Linked DNA regions of Homo sapiens. The protein of the gene in region 3 interacts with the protein of the main gene of each other region in a pairwise test. Each region holds a gene or a part of one and is shown on either strand. Other genes may lie near its edges.

Region 1 (3,104 bases), on a different chromosome or scaffold from region 3:
CGCTTGAATCTGGGAGGCGGAGGTTCCAGTGAGTCGAGATTGCGCCACTGCACTCCAGCCTGGGCAACAGAGCGAGACTCTGTCTCAAAACAAAAAAAAAAAGAAAAAGAGAAGTGAGATTTCCCTCAGATAGGAGGGAGGATATAGGGGAGGAAAGGCAGGAGGAAAAGGCTAAGGGGTGGCTAAAAAGTGGGGGAAGGCAAGAAGGTGGCAATACTTGGATGGAGGTAGCTTCTGACACTGGGTTAGCCAGGATGGAAAGGGCATCCCACATCTAATTCATCAAAAAATCCTGTGGGTCCTACCTTCAAAAAATATATCCTTCATCTTCCACTGTCATCTCTCCCAGACCTCTTCTCAGGTCTCCATTTCCATTCTGTTCTACTCACAGCATCTGGAGGGATTCTGTTAAATCCTAAATTAGGCCACAGTCCTCCTGTGTCAGAACTCTGCCCTGTCGCAGGCTGGGCGTGGTAGCTCACGCCTGTAATCCTAGCACTTTAGGAATGCTAGACTTGAACTCCTGGGCTCAGGTGATCCTCCCACCTCAGCCTCCCAAGTAGCTGAGACTATAAGTGTGAGCGACCATGCCCAGCTCACTTTATTTTTTCCATTTCACTTATTATTGTCACCCTATGTTATACGAGATAATCCACTCATGCATCATGTTCGCTGTGTGAAGTCTATCTCTGCTTCAGTATAAGCTCCACAAAGACAGGGATCTTTGTTTTGCTCAATATAGTTTATCACAAATGGCTAGAACAGTACCTGTTAAGGGACTATTTTTTTGGTTGGAGGAAGGAGACTGTAATCTCTTTGGTACCTAACCCAGTGGGGGCAAGGTCAGGTATATCTTCTCAGCAGAGGCAGCTGGGATGAAGCTGGCTCCAGGAAAGAAGAAAAGACATAAAGCCAGGACAAAGGCATAACAGCCCAACCCCTATCTGAGGGCGCCACCCATGTCAGACCCCCTCTCCTTTCTGTGTCTTTTGTCTCTACAGGTCAGTGAAGCCCAGGAGGACCTGGGGGGGGCAAGAGCTCAGGAGAAGGCCTGCCCCCCTTCCCACCCCTATACCCTAGGTCTCCACCCCTCAAGCCAGGAGACCCTGTCTTTGCTGTTTATATATATATATATTATATATAAATATCTATTTATCTGTCTGAGCCCTGCCCTCACTCCACTCCCCTCATCCACTAGGTGCCCAGTCTTGAGTGGGCCCCCTCTCTTACCCCGTCCCTTTCCCTGCATCCCTTGGCCCCTCTCTGTTTACCCTCCCTGTCCCCTGAGGTTAAGGGGATCTAAAAGGAGGACAGGGAGGGAACAGACCTCGGCTGTGTGGGGAGGGTGGGCGTGACTTCAGACTCTCTCCTCTCTCTCCCTCCACTCCTCCCAACTCTGGCCTTGGTTCCTCCAGCAATGCCTGCCTGAACAAAGGCCGTTAGGGAAATCCAACTCCAGGGTTAAAGAAAGGCAGAGATTGGGGGGGCTTGGGGTAGAGAGGACAGTTTAGGACCCAAGGTGGTCTTGGAGAGGAGGTGTGGAGTGGAGGGGTCAGCAGGGGGGTTGGGTTCCAGACAGAGTGGATCTGGAGTCTGAAGGAGAGGAGTGCGCTAGAGCATTCTGGGGTGGGGCTTGGAAGGGCGCTGAGGGCAGGGTTCTAGAAGGGGCGAGGCTTTAAGCGAGGCAGAATGGTGGGCTCCAGAGTAGGTGGGTCTTGGATTGGTACCAGAGCCTATGGAAAGGGTGTGGCTTGGAACATTTGGGAGACTGAGCTTGATTCTAAAGGGGACAGATCTTGAGCAAGGCAAGAAGTGGGATTCAGGAATGGGCCAAGCCAGGGTTCCAGACAGGGTGGGGCTTAGAATGGGGCTTCCATGGTGGTTTCAGAAAGGGCAGCCCCTCCCCATGGTGCAGTGAAGAAAATGTTTTACAATGGCTGGGTTTGGGCAGTGGAGAGGGGACTTGGATAGGAGCTTCCAGATGGGTTTTGTTAGGGGTGGGGGAGAATGGCTCTGGCTACGACTTGGGACGGAAGTGGCCTGAGAAGAGTCGAGTGATATGGCTTGTAGGGTGAGGCGTGGGATCCAGAGAGAAGCACCCCACCACACACACCCTTCCCCACTCCCGTGATGAAACAGCTAGGTTAATAGGAGGACAGAACCAACGGGTCTGTGGGACTGGCCCACCCCTCTTCCCCCTTCCCCTGCGCCCTCCCTCCCTCCACACCTCCACCCGTCCTGGGGTGGTTGGAGGCCTGGTCTGGAGCCCCTATCCTGCACCCTCTGCTATGTCTGTGATGTCAGTAGTGCCTGTGATCGTGTGTTGCCATTTTGTCTGGCTGTGGCCCCTCCTTCTCCCCTCCAGACCCCTACCCTTTCCCAAACCCTTCGGTATTGTTCAAAGAACCCCCCTCCCCAAGGAAGAACAAATATGATTCTCCTCTCCCAAATAAACTCCTTAACCACCTAGTCTACCCGGCTCTGATTTCTCAGTGTGTCTTTTTCGGGCGCCGGGGAGGAGGTTGGCCGGGGGAGAAAGGAGGGAGAGGTGGTGAGAACAAGCTCCACCCGGACCCACCGACCGCAGTTCAGCTTGCTGCACCATTTCAGGCCCCTTCAAAAGTGTTAGGCAGAGCAGCATCCTCTGGGAAGCCTCTCCTGCCAATCACTCTGTCACTCTCTGAGTAGCCCTGCTCACCCTCCCACTACTGGCCACCAAATGCCCGGTCTTTCTAGGAGTTGGTTCTAATTCTGGTCCCTTAGCCAAGCCTCTTCCGAGCCCCTGTGGAACCCTCTCCTCAAATCCCCAAGGGGTCCGAATAGGAGGAAACCTCACATTGCCTGACCCCATCCCTAATCTTCAGACCCTACTGTCTCTCCTTTCCCTGCCTCCGCCCAGGCTGGAGAAATGGGAGACAGGTTAGGCAAGGAGGGGAGGTGGGGCGCCGGGGTGACTCCTTAGTTCATTAGTTATTCTCTTTTACCTCTCCACTCCACGGGAAGTGACAGGGACATGTGTAATGGGGGGCGGGGAGAGGTCCCCGGGGCCCGCGATGAAGGGCCTGGCCGCTGCAGTCTCCGTGCATAGAGACCCGGGCCGAGTT
Region 2 (7,470 bases), on a different chromosome or scaffold from region 3:
GGTAATGGAAGGGACAATGAGTGGGGATGAAGATGCAGGGGTCTGAGGGGGAGGTCAGAAATGTGGAGTTGGGAACAAAGTTCAAAGGGTACCTGGACCCCTGCATAAGCATTGTTGACCAGCACATCTAGACGCCCTTGCTGTTCCCGATCCACTTGCTCAAACAGGCTTCGCACTTCACTCTCCTGGCTTGAATCGCACACCACAGGCACACATTGGCCCCCGAGGGATTGTGCCTGGAGTAGGACAGGGGATATGAGCTCACATTCACACATGGGTGTGAGTCATGACAAAACTCCCCAACCAAAGTGGGCTTGAGAACTGAGAAGACAATCAATCCTAGGAGAGCCTGCTGCAGAGGCAACATGGCAGGCAACGCTGCCCTCTGGTGTCTGTTTGAGTAGTTTCAGGAATGATAGGCCTCCCCACCACAGAGCAAGGTGAATTGCAATGTAAGTTTTAATAATCTACAAACATTTACTGAGGCCCACCATGTGCACAGCATTGTACTTTGCAAGTAGAGGGTAAGAACAAGTGAGGCATGGAGTCTGCTCTTGAGAAATGAGTAAGCATCCTTTTCCTTGTTGTGGTCATTTCCATCTCTCATGCCCTTAGCTCCCACCCTACACTACTCACCTAAAACCTCTACTCAGTCCCAGTTGTCTTACCCTCACTCCACCAATGCTCCTGGTTGGTAATTGAAAAAACCAAAGCTATCAGCCATGAATGATTTCTACTTCCTGTTCTGTCTCACTCTCTACAAATGCCCACAAACCTCCAACTTCAGAGGAAGAAGAGTCCTTTATCTAAGAACAATCCTCCTATTCTCCAAATTTATGCTCTGGGTCCCCGCCTATTACCCTCCTTGCCTGAACTACTGCAATGCCTCCCAACGACTCACCTGACCTCCAGTCTGTCTGCCTTAAATTAATTCTTCATAATCCAGCCAGTACGACCTATCTAAAACACAAACCCTGTTCAAAATCTCCTAACTGGATCTCCATCTCTTAGAGGATGAAGCCTGAGTTCTCTATTAGGGTCTTCCAAGACCCACTCTTTCCTCTCCAGCCTCTCACTCACTACTCTTCCCTTGCATTATCTCACACATCTACTCTTTCACACAGCGTCCCTATGCTTATGGAGCTCCCTCTGCTGGAATGCTTTTCCTAACTTCCTTTACCTAATTCTTACCTTTCAAAACTCAGTTCAAGAACCACCTACCTCCTCCAGGACGCTTTCCCAAACCACTTTCCCTAGCCACTCTCCTATGTCATCTGGATGCTCCCCAACACCCCTAGAGTATTCTGTGCATATCTCCCTCTTATAATTTACCATATTCACATTACATTGAAGTGACTGCTTTCTGTACCTGACTTCCTGTTGGAATCTATCTTCATTTTTAATTAAAATTTTTTTTTTTAGAGACAGGGTCTCACTGTCACCAGGCTGGAGTGCAGTGGTGCAATCATAGCTCACTGCAACCTCGAACTCCTGGGCTCAAACGATCCTCCTGCCTCAGCCTCCCAAGTAGATGGTACTACAGGTGCAGGCCACTGTGCCTAGCTAATTATTTAAAAAATATTTTTTGTAGAGACTGGGTCTAGCTATGTTGCCCAGACTGGTCTCCAACTGCTGGCCTCAAGTGATCTTGCTGCCTTGGCCACCCAAAGTGCTGGGACTACAGGCATGAGCCACTGTACTCCACCATGGACTGAATCTTTGAAGAGCAGAAATTAGATTTTATTAGTCTTGGTAACTTCAGTGGTTTACCAATGCCTAGCAAATCATGGATACTCAAATATTTATTTAACTGAAGTCTAGTAAATAAGTAAAAAATGTGCAGTTCAATAAAGTCTTGCCTGAAATAGAGGAAAGCACAGGTCCACAACCCTTTAGTTGCAATTCCAAAATCTCTGCTCTCAAACAAAAAGTTTTTTACTTTTCTTTCTTTTCTTTTTTTTAATACAGTGTCTCGCTGTGTCGTCTAGACTGGAGTGCAGTGGTGTGATCATGGCTCAACTCCTAGGCTCAAGCGATCCTCCTGCCTCAGCCTCCGGAGTAGCTGCTGGGACTGCAGGAACGTGCCACCATGCCTGGCTCAAACACAAAGTTTTTTCATAAAACTCACTTGGCGGCAAAATTCTACCTTACCTGAAGTTATTTACGGGGTTTTTAATTTCCACTTTGAATAAATATTCACATCTTGTTGAGTAGTATTATAGTTTCAGGTAAGGGATTAGGAAAGGAGCTGTTAAGTGGAAGGGCTCTCTCGGGTGGTTTCTGCAACTGTGGTCCCAGAGGAAGCACTCACCTCCTGAGCAACAACGCGAAGGGTGTCCAGATGGCGGCCAGTGATGTAAACTGTGGCGCCTGCTTTGCAGAGCTGCAAGGCAATGCCACGGCCAATACCCCTGGAGGCACCAGTCACCACACACACTTGGCCATTCATGGGAGCTGCCATGACTCACAGGCAAAGGAGGCAGGTCTGTGGAAGCAAAGACTTACTCTGAGGGAAGCCTGGAGACTGTGTGTGTGTTGGGGCGAGGTTGGGGGGTAGGGGAGAACCTCACTAGGGCTAAGAGGAGGAGCCAAGGTAAGAATCCTTTGAGGGGAGAGGAGTCAGAGGCTGACAACTGGGTGCGGGCCTGAGGACAAGGCTGACTGTCTTTTGGGAGGCCCAGAGAGTGAAGAAGGGGCTGAGTGGGACTGTCCAGAGGTGGACAACTACTACAACCCTCTGAGTGTGGCTGCCTGGATATGGGAATCTGGCGCGGCAGCCCCTCGGGGCGCGTCCACGCAGAGTCCTGGGCTATCTGAAGCTCCGGTCCCTGGCCTGACCCAGTCCGGCTGAGCCAGAGGCGCAGCTTCCGGGCCGGGGATGAGCGCGAAGCCTGGAGATCCTAAGCCCTAAGTGGGACGAGCGTGCGCCGCTTACCTGCCACCTGCGCTGCCGCTGAGGTCTGCAGATTGCGGGGCTGCGGTGGAAGTCTGGGTTCTCGCCCAGATTGAGCCGGCGACGTGGAGGCAGTGTTCAAGGATTGATTCTGTAGTAGGACCCGGGGCGATTCTGTGCTGAGGTAGAGGGGCAGAGTCCCAGGCCAAAGTTAGAACCTGCGGATGGGGGCGGAGCGATCTGGGTGACACACCCACCCCGCCCGGCTGGGGCGGCGCGGAACTATGACGTAGTAGCTGCGTCAGGAGCGCGCCCGCGTTTCTAAACTTTGTCTGGATAAGGCGCACGCTTGGCGACGTCGAAGGTCCGTCCGCAGTTAAGGAAGCTTTTGCAGCCGGACAGGTCGCGAAGCACACATGGGGCAGGGTCCGCGCTCTCCACACAAGGTGGGGCGCCGGTTCCCAGCTGGTGGCAAACGGGGGCGCGGGGCCAAGGGGTCGGGGCGCCCCTTACCAGGCCGTAAGCGGCAACCCTGGCCGCCTCCGGATGGGCGCTCGGAGCCGGCTCCAGATTCGCACCCGCACCTGAGCCCGGAAGCTCTGGGATATTTCCGCCGGGCGCTGTCAGCATTGAAAGAGGCTCCCGAGACTGGGGAAGAACGAGGTAGGCAGCAACTTCGGGGTTTAGACCAAGAGCATCAAATCCAGGGCAGGCAAGGAAACTTTCTAGGGTCGGCAGGGCGTGGGGACTTAGTTTCATTTCCCATGTCCTCTTCCTCGGCCTCCGACCCACGACCCTTGGTTAAGCGAGGGTACATAACTGTATTCTCTACTAAGTCTCTTCAAAGTGTGTCTTTCTTCCCTTTTCAGATCTGATGGTGCACAATATAATGAAGGAAGTAGAGACTCAGGCCCTAGCTTTGTCCACGAACAGGACTGGCAGTGAGATGCTGCAGGAACTGTTGGGATTCAGTCCCTTGAAACCGCTTTGTCGCGTGTGGGCTGCTCTGCGCTCTAACTTGCGCACTGTGGCCTGTCACCGATGCGGGGTCCATGTATTACAAAGTGCTTTGCTACAGCTCCCTCGATTGCTGGGGAGTGCTGCAGAGGAGGAGGAGGAGGAGGAGGAGGATGGAAAGGATGGTCCCACGGAGACCCTGGAGGAGCTGGTCCTGGGACTAGCCGCTGAGGTGTGTGATGATTTTCTTGTCTACTGTGGAGACACACATGGCAGCTTCGTGGTCAGAACTCTGCTTCAGGTGTTAGGAGGGACTATTCTGGAGTCTGAGAGAGCCAGGCCCCGTGGTTCCCAATCATCTGGTAAGTATTACAAGAGGAAAGTGGACCTAGGGGGAAGAAGAATTTAGAAAGTTCAGAATGAGACAGTAAACAGAAGAGTAAGTCTTCATGGGGGAGCTTGACCGGGAAGAATTAGCTTGACCTGTCCTAATCTGAACAGGGCTTAGCAAGCCAAAGATTAGTGTGTGCGGAGGCCCAGAGGTAGGGATGTACAGTTGTGTTTGGGGAAGGCTATTAGAATGGACGCAGGAGGAGAATTTTTTTTAAGCATGACTTAATATACAAATGGACTTAAGCAAAAGTAACATACACACTGGACTCAAGCAAAAGTTCAGGAAACTATACCCTTACTACATGCAGCCCACTCTGTTATTTTTTTTTCCTTTTCAAAACTATTCTGCTCTATTTCATTTAAAAAAAATGCTAGTTGAGACCACTAACTTGATTTCATGGTACAGTCTTGAGCTGTGATCCACATTTTGAAAAACTAGGAAATAAAGTTAGCGAGTTTAAATGAGGCTTTATTTTGGAATGGCTTGAATACCTGGCTGAGGAGGTTGAACTGTCTTCTGTGGACCATGGGGAAGCTGGTTGAAGTTTCTTAGAAAAATTAAGACAGAAATGTAGTCTCAGTTCAGTCATCCAGAAGAGACATTTAGTTGTACTACATCTGTTCTGCATCTCCAAGCGGAATCCTTGTTCATCTGTGAAATTTTTCTCTCCTGGATGGCAGTTTGTGATCTCCCCACTGCACATGTTCTTAATCTTCCTTCAGAAGCACAGAAGACCCCAGCTCAGGAATGTAAGCCAGCTGATTTTGAAGTCCCTGAAACCTTTTTGAATCGCCTTCAGGACCTGAGCTCCTCCTTTCTGAAGGACATTGCAGGTAAGGAGGGAAGTAGGAGGATGGTCTCGTATCTACTTGTCTGGAGGTCATCTTACCACCAAGCAAGGCCCTTACCTCAGGTTATTCCTCTTCTTTTCAAACCTGGTCTGGTTTGACGTTCAGAGCACTTTGTATAGTCCCTTTGTGTCCATAGTGCCCTGTATCTTGTTGCCTAAAGTTTGAGGTTACGCAGGTTGTCTGGATTTTGGGAAAGCCGCTTTATTTCTGCCCTCTCTCCACAGTGTTTATCACTGATAAGATCTCCAGCTTCTGTCTTCAAGTGGCTTTACAGGTTTTACACCGCAAACTTCCCCAGTTTTGCGCTCATCTCTGCAATGCTGTGATTGGCTACCTGAGTACTCGCGGTTCCTCAGTAGATGGCAGGTATGGTCAGGGCCTCAGGATCGACCCAAGTTGGCGGGGCTGTGTGAAATGAATGAGGTGATGTAGTGCAACTGTATTTTGCATGAAATGGAGTTAAGACTGCCTGATGCCCTTCTTGTCCCTAGTCCCCTACTGCTATTTCTCCGAGATCAGACGAGTTCCAGACTCCTGGAGCAGGTCCTGCTGGTGTTGGAGCCCCCAAGACTCCAGAGCCTCTTTGAGGAGCACTTGCAGGGGCAGCTGCAGACCCTGGCTGCACATCCCATTGCCAACTTCCCTTTGCAGCGCTTACTGGATGCAGTCACTACCCCTGAGCTGGTGAGTTGGAAACCTGAGCTGGATCTGTTTCTGCTAATTCTTGATCACTGGACCTTATTTTATGGTCTGTCTGCCTCTATATACCTTTGACATTGTGCTGGCCATTGCCCTTGAAAAGCTATTCTTTGAGGTTTTCCAGAGCTTAGGATAAAGGTGCCCACCTTCTAGTGAGGATTTGTTTTGACTTCTCTCAGGTATGAGGACCAGCAAGAAACTGGCTTTATTCAGGTTTACAGCTTGAGGTTCCATGGCCCACCCAGACTCTGGTACTTGGCTATAAGCCCACATGAGTGCTAGAGCTGTTGCCATAGCTTCTCTTTTCCTTTGCTGCTTAGGACTAAGGTGGGCTTCCCTGTGGTCTCATGCATTGGGTGTTAGAGTGGAAGTGCAGTTTAATTTTAGTCTCCCCTTGCTCCTAGTGCTCCCTTACACATAGGGAAGAGCCACTTAAAGTTCCTTCCTGTGAGGTGGCACCTCTAAGACTGCCCCCTTATCCTGGGCCTTATCTAGCCAAACAAAAGTCCTGATACTGGCAATGCTTTTTATGTTTTATCTAGCATTTTTAGTTGTTTTCGTTGGGAAGATTTCTCTGAATAATGTGGTCCGCCATTACCAGAATGCCAGAGTTACATTCCATGTTTCCCATCAGCTGTCCCCTGTGTTTGAGGAGCTGAGCCCTGTCTTGGAAGCTGTATTGGCCCAGGGCCACCCAGGGGTAGTCATTGCCCTGGTGGGGGCCTGTCGCAGAGTTGGGGCCTACCAAGCCAAGGTCCTACAGCTCTTGTTGGAGGTGAGTGGATATTACCCACAATCTGTTTATGCCCTCAGTTCAACTTCTACCTTTTAGGACTTATCTAATCTTAAGTTTTTGTACCTCTGGACTCAGGAAGTCTAATGCCCAAGGAGTTCACAGGAATGGGGGAAAATGAGGCCTATAGGTGCCCGCCACCATACCCAGCTAATTTTTTTTTTTTTTTTTGAGACGGAGTTTTGCTCTTGTTGCCCAGGCTGGAGTGCAGTGGCGCAATCTCAGCTCACCGTGCCCGGCTGAGGCCAAATGTTATTTCACAGTCCTGGAACAAAAATTGTCTCCCAGAACTAAGAGAGAAGTTTATTTAAGGGATAAACATTTATTAACCCCTGTATGTGATAGAGGCTGGGGATACAGCAAGGCATGACATCTGCTTTCATGGAGCTAACATTCTTGTGGAGTTGGGCCTTCTTTCCTTTCCTGAAGGTGTTCCCTTAAAGTTGAGGTAAGGGACGGAGAAGTTCTCAGGTTCATCATATTCTGTCTTCTCCTTTAGGCATTCCACTGTGCAGAGCCCTCATCCCGGCAAGTGGCCTGTGTGCCTCTCTTTGCCACTTTGATGGCTTATGAGGTGTACTATGGACTGACGGAGGAGGAGGGGGCAGTGCCTGCAGAGCACCAGGTGAGGTAGGGGAGAGGCCAAGCCAGTGACTAATTGGGAGTCAGGCCTCCCAGGGTTTAGCAAGCGTCTGACTTCTGAGGTGAGAGTGGTGACTTCATCCAGGTGGAGGTGGCAGTGTTCTGGGGATGGGCTCATCCACCTGGCTTGTTGGTGCCTCCTAATTTCTTATCTCTGCGCTGCCAGGTGGCAATGGCCGCAGCCAGAGCCTTGGGGGATGTGACAGTCCTTGGGTCTCTACTGCTCCAGCATCTGCTGCAC
Region 3 (6,334 bases):
AGATGAGGTGAGTATTGTGGGTATGAGAAGGAAAATATATCACGAATTGACATACCTTCTAATATTATAACAAAATGCAAATTCCTCATTAGTTATTTGGAAATGGTTTCATAGATTACAGATAGTTATATTAACATAAAATTTTAATTAATATTCTTTAATAGAATATCATAGAAATATTTAAAACTTTTAACTGCCAAATAACTTGAAGATGTATAAAACTCCCTCCAATAAGATCCTTTATCTAGGCCAGACATGGTGGCTTACACCTGTAATCTCAGCACTTTTGGGAGGCCAAGGCAGTGGGATCACTTGAGGCCAGGAGTTCAAGACCAGCCTGGGCAACATAGCGACACCTCATCTCTACAAAAAATATGAAAAATTAGCTGGGCATGGTGGTGTGCGCCTGTAGTCCCAGCTACTCAGGAGGCTAAGGTGGGAGGATCGTTTGAACACGAAAGGTCAAGGCTGCAGTGAGCCGTGATCATGCTGCTGCACTACAGCCTGGGCAACAGAGTGAGACCCTGCCTCAAAAAACTAATAATAATAAATAAATCCTTTGTTTTTCAGCACAATTGATAATAACGTTTAAAGTCCTTTTGGTGAATAATTTAAACAAATTAAATACAAATCTGATTGGTTTTCTACTTGTTTATTTTTTTAATGTAGTTAATAACTGGAAGTATTTTATTTTGCAGGTGATCACTGTGTTCAGTGTTGTTGGAATGGATTCAGACTGGCTAATGGGGGAAAGGGGAAACCAGAAGGGCAAGGTGCCAATTACCTACTTAGAACTGCTCAATTAAGTAGGTGGACTATGGAAAGGTTGCCCATCATGACTTTGTATTTATATACAATTAACTCTAAATAAAGCAGGTTAAGTATCTTCCATGTTAATGTGTTAAGAGACTGAAAATACCAGCCATCAGAAACTGGCCTTTCTGCCAATAAAGTTGCATGGTAAATATTTCATTACAGAATTTATGTTAGAGCTTTCATGCCAAGAATGTTTTCTTACAAAATTCTCTTTTTATTGAGGTTTCACTAATAAGCAGCTTCTACTTTTGAGCCTCAACTTAAAGCAGAACTGTTTTCTACTGGATTTTTCATTAACAGCAAGCTTTTTCTTTTATGTAAAATAAATCTATTGTGAATTGATATCAGCGACTCATTTATTAGGTATAAATAATAGCCAAAGAATAAAATTAAAATTTATTTTAAACTTTCGGTCTTAAAAAGAGCTGTAGGATATAAACCTCTTTTGTGAAAAGTAGAATTTTCTGAATGCTTTCATAGACAAAAACGCATTTAAACTATGTTTACCTGGTTTTCCAACAGAAATCAAATGATTTTAATATTATGTTTTGATGGGTTATTTTCAGAGTTGTTTGGTTTTTTAAACACTACTGAATGGTTTCTTTTAAATTTAAGAACAACTAGTTCTTGAAAAGCAATACCGTATTTCTCTGATAAATTTGTAGTTAAGGTTCTAGAAAATCTAGGACAAATTTACTTCATTAAACATAAAGTTTTTAAGATTATTCAGTTGGCACAATTTAATGCATAATTGGGATTGGATCCATTTACTGTACTGTGGTACAGTAAAGAGAATGTGTTCTTATTGAACAGCAGATTTGTATACAAATACGGAATAATGCAACTACATTATAAATTGTATACGAACAAAATAAATTGGGTCACTCTGAGCTTACTATTAAAACATTGAAAATTTATTAATGAACACAGGCTATCTTGATGAGGATCTCTGCTTATGAAACACATACTAATGAAATTATTAGTGACACATTGGAAGCTAGAAAATTGCTGTTGGGGCCATTGCTATAAATCATTGTTTCCATGTTAAGACTTCTGTTCTAATTCATTCATTCAACAAACATTTGTTGAGGGCCAGATACTGTGCTGGTCAACTGGGGATACTGTCCTGAACAATATGCACACAGTTCTTGCCCCTGCAGAGCTTAAAGACCATTAAAGGATACAGAAAATTAAGCAATTATCCTATAGTAGGATTCGTGGTGTGATGGGGAAAATACAAGGTACTGTATTTGGGAGTCATGTAACTCCAGTTTTGGGAGTGAGAGAGGGTCTGGGGAAGAACTGTTCCAGATAAAAAGATGTGTAACCAAGATAGCATAGCACATTCTGACAACTAAAGCAATTTACTCTAACTTAAGCATGAAGTACAAAAGTATAGTTCATTTATTGAGGGAATGTTAAGCTATTAAAATGATACTTTTTGGTACTTTTAAAAAAATGAATACTTAAACACCGTTTTAAAATTTTGTGTTAAGAGCTCCTAATAAGAACTTGGTAAACATGTTGACAATTTAACTCACAGTCTAAACTTTAAAAGTAGTAGTTACCCTTTTATTTCTGTGCCATGAGACAAATTCTTCTGCAGTTTTATAGTTGTACAAGATGTTTTGACTCACTCTCAATTGCCATATTCTTAAAGAAACCCTGAAAAGCTGCTCAAGCTGGTCAGTTTTCTGTAAAACCAAGTAAATGAAATTTTCTCTCCCCTCAGAAAGGAAGTTCTACAGCCTAGAGTACCATCTATTGTGTTTTATAAGTCCAGATTTAGGCTTTGAAAGATCATACCAAAACTTCAGATCGACTTAAACAGCAACTATGAATTAGGTTTATGGGAAATGTAGTAATACAGGGGAAAGAATATCGGTAATGGAGTGAAATGGTCCTGGGTTCAAATCCAGTCTTCCTCACATATTGTGCTCTTTAAGCTTCAAATGAGATGTATAACTGCCTTTTCCTTACCAGTAAAATGAGGACAATAATTATGACACCATAGGGTGGTTGTGAGGATTAGCAAATGTTATCTTGTATTTCAGGTGCCTTTCAGGGAAAGGCTTGGCACATAGTAAACACATCCTGTAAATATCAGTTTCCCCTTGTTAGCCCCTGTAGCATCCTGACCTACCAAGTCTATAGGCCTTGCATATCACTGTGCACCAGAGATACCTCTTTTACATCTGGGCTCTGTTTTCTCTCTATCAATCCTATCCTCCACCCTCTTTAAATCAGACCCCAGGTTTAACCTTCCCACAGTCAGTATAAATCATTTTTCAGAACTTTCAGCTTTCCATCAAGTGAAAGTTGATTTTAGTTACCCAGTAATGTACAGAAACCTTCAATAATGTTAAGCTTCAAAGGCTTCTGGTACGTTTGTCTACCACAGAACCACCACAATATATATGCTTGTTCTTAGGTTTATTGCTTTTTATTTTAATGGGGTTTGGTTGTTTGGGTTTTATTTTGGTTTTGGCTTATTTTAAAGTCAAGTTTAGTTTTTACTCAGGTAAAGGCCTGAAGTTTCTTGGGCGTGGAAGAAAAAGCTTGGGAAGCCTATTAATTCATGGTGCAGTTCAGAATTGTTTAAATAAGCTCTGTGCCACTGAGCTTAATCTGAAAGTATAGTGACATGTGAAGGATGCACATATGAATGAAAAACTAAAATAATTGTAGGCTCTTCTATAAATGAAAAAAAAAGTGATTGGATTGTGTCTACCTTTTTCCTCAAAGTAATCTAACCTAAACGGTCATGGTGTTAAAACTTTTTATGGTGCTAATCAGAAAAATTGATGTTGCAAGAAATGAGGTCTCAAAAATGGGAATGTGCCTCCTCACTCTGCGTCACATGGGAAATAAATCCTGAGGCCAGGATCACCAGTGGGGTAGAGTCATCTTCATAGTCTCCTGTTATCCTCCCCCTGAACAAAGAACAAAGTGAGACTGGGAAGCTAGTGTTGGGGAAACATTTCTGGGATAAACTGTGGAGTGGAGAAGACAATGGAGGGCAAGGCAAAAACCCACAGACTTGTTTACCCATAGAGGCCCCACTCACCTCCATGCTGACAGAATTCCAGAAAAATTCCTTCCCTATCTCCCAAACACCTGAAATTCTGAAATATTGCCCTACTATTTAGCACTTTAAGCTTCAGTGAGGTGCTGTAATGGAGAGATAGCTTCATAGTTTAGCCTATAGCCAACTTTGCCTCAAGACCTCCAGATAAGATGAAGTGGCTTTTACCTCATGTGAGTCTCAAACGCTGGAGAGAGAGTTCCACAACCACCCCTGCCCTTTCTCCCATATTACGCTCATTAGAAAGTCTACTCAGGGCTGGGTGCCGTGGCTCATGCCTGTAATCCCAGCACTTTGGAGGCTGAGGCGGGTGGATCATCTGAGGTCAGGAGTTCGAGACCAGCCTGGCCAACATGGGGAAACCCTGTCTCTACTGAAAATATAAAAATTAGCCGGGCATGGTGGCGTGCACCTGTAATTCCAGCTACTCGGGAGGCTGAGGCAGGAGAATCACTTGAACCCCAGAGGCAGAGGCTACAGTGAGCCAAGATTGCACCACTGCACTCCAACCTGGGTGATAGAATAAGACTCTTGTCTCAAGGAAAGAAAAAATGTCTACTCAGTAGAGCAGTGATTGGCAAAGTGTGAGACCCCAGACCGGCAATATTGGCATCTCCTGGAGACTTGTTTAAAATGCTGATTACTATTTTCAAGAACTTTCTACCTTCATTTTTACTTATTTTTTGTTTTCAAGGGCTCATGGAATCAGTCTTCCATGTGACAGCTTTTTAAATATTTTAAGACAAAAACTGAGTCTTCTAATCTTAATTGTGTTCTAGCAGTAGTCATTGTAATTATAGTTATTTTTATAATTTATTTGTTTAGTGTATATCTGTCACTCTAGAATGTAGGCTCCCTGAGATAAAAACTATAATTCTTTTGATGGCAGTTACATTCCCAACTCTTAGCACAAGATCTAGGACATAGTATGAACTCAATAAATTTTTGTTGAATGAAAGAAAAATGCAAATTTATAAGCCTTTTCAGAGACCTACTGAATCAAACTCTGAGAGTGGAGCCCAGCAATCTGTTGTAAAAGCTGTTTGAGTAATACTGTTGCACTCTAAGCTTGAGAACCACTGCAATAGAACTAAGAGAACATTCATTTCACCTTCAGGCCTATTCTCTGACATCACTTGAAAAATCCTCTCTGCCTTCTGTAACCCTTAACCAACAACAGTGCCCTGTCCATGTAGGGGAAACTTCTGGGCTGTATTACAAGTGGGTAGGAAGGTATAAGGATATCATAGTGGGAAGTATTGCTTAGAATGCCAGTACTTGTTTGCTGTGGAAGGTTTCTAGGAATGGATTGCTTAGTCTAAAGTAAGCACTACCACCATCCACGTTTTCACTCAACACAGTGCCTTTTAATTGGTGACTAACATCAAAACACCTTGACAAACCGTTAAAACAGTATCAGAAACCATGTGTACATCCCTGTGCCTCTTAGATTGCTAAGTTCTGCTCTCATTCTTACTTCAAAGGACACTTTTTAAAGAATTGTTAATGCTTTTTTATAATACAAGTCATAGCCCTGTTGGCAAAAAGAAAAAAGATTCAGTGAGAAAGAAAAATCACTGATAATTCCATCATCCAGGGAGAACCACTGTTATTTAAGTATATGGCCTTCCAGACTTTTCTGTGCATTTATAGATATTTTTAATGGGATCAAAGTGTACATACTGTTTTGTAACTTTTTTTCACTCAACAATACCATGACTGTCTTGCTGTGTCAAGTATATTTCTACATCTCTTAATGGCTGCATGATATTCCATCATATGTGCCACATTTTATTAAACTACTGTTCAATTTTTAGGTTTCCAACTTTCATTAATAAAGTGCTTTAAAGAACATTGTGTTGCTAAATCTCGTATGTGTTCATATTTTCTCACGATAAATGCTTTGAAGTGGAATTGCTAGTGAAGAGGGTATGCCAGTTTTTAAAAGCTTTTGTTACTGCCATGTTGCCCCCTAGAAAACTCTAAGCAATTTATACTTTTATCAGCAGTATATGAGAGAATACTGTTTCTTTTGGAGGGCTTCCAACTAGAATGTTCTTGGAGTCTTTGGTTTAAAAATAAAGGGTAAGAGGGAGATAAAAAGATCCTGCAAAATTAAAGTCCAGTCTTAAATGTTTCTTAAATTATGACATTCATTTACTGTTCTTCCCTCTTTATCATATATTTTGTATTACTTTGGAAATGTTTGTAGTACTAGTTGCCTCTTGCTTTTATTCAGTCTCCTGGAAGCATTATTACCTTTCTGACATTTGCAAAGACAGTAGAAGAACAATCTTAAGTAGACTTGAATCTTGAGGTATCTTTGATGCAGGTGTACTGTTGATGGATTTAGGGAATGTAGCCGTAGTGGGGAAAGTAGGATTTTGGAAGGTAGGCAGAACAGTGGCTCTCCCACTTGTTTTCCTGGCCTTT

What was found. Proteins that work in one complex are often made in the same cells at the same time.
Region 1: the proteins of SH3GLB1 (region 3) and SYP interact in binary tests that used the Homo sapiens proteins (3 or more experiments, as listed by UniProt).
Region 2: the proteins of SH3GLB1 (region 3) and DHRS1 interact in binary tests that used the Homo sapiens proteins (3 or more experiments, as listed by UniProt).

Annotation. Positions count from the first base shown.
Region 1 is NC_000023.11:49,187,180-49,190,283, reverse strand, and holds the end of SYP (synaptophysin), read left to right. Parts: intron 1-1,001; 3' UTR 1,002-2,469; downstream 2,470-3,104.
Region 2 is NC_000014.9:24,296,646-24,304,115, forward strand, and holds the start of DHRS1 (dehydrogenase/reductase SDR family member 1), read right to left. Parts: upstream 3,136-7,470; 5' UTR 2,936-3,135; exon of another isoform or gene 2,486-2,935; 5' UTR 2,462-2,485; coding exon 2,312-2,461; exon of another isoform or gene 1,969-2,311; intron 237-1,968; coding exon 93-236; intron 1-92. Other genes in the region: NOP9 (nucleolar protein 9), read left to right, coding at 3,310-3,556, 3,763-4,212, 4,925-5,077, 5,320-5,461, 5,587-5,779, 6,429-6,569, 7,087-7,212, 7,396-7,470. UniProt on the Homo sapiens protein: NADPH-dependent oxidoreductase which catalyzes the reduction of steroids (estrone, androstene-3,17-dione and cortisone) as well as prostaglandin E1, isatin and xenobiotics in vitro. May have a role in steroid and/or xenobiotic metabolism.
Region 3 is NC_000001.11:86,742,430-86,748,763, forward strand, and holds the end of SH3GLB1 (endophilin-B1), read left to right. Parts: coding exon 1-7; intron 8-698; coding exon 699-806; 3' UTR 807-5,755; downstream 5,756-6,334. UniProt on the Homo sapiens protein: May be required for normal outer mitochondrial membrane dynamics. Required for coatomer-mediated retrograde transport in certain cells. May recruit other proteins to membranes with high curvature. May promote membrane fusion.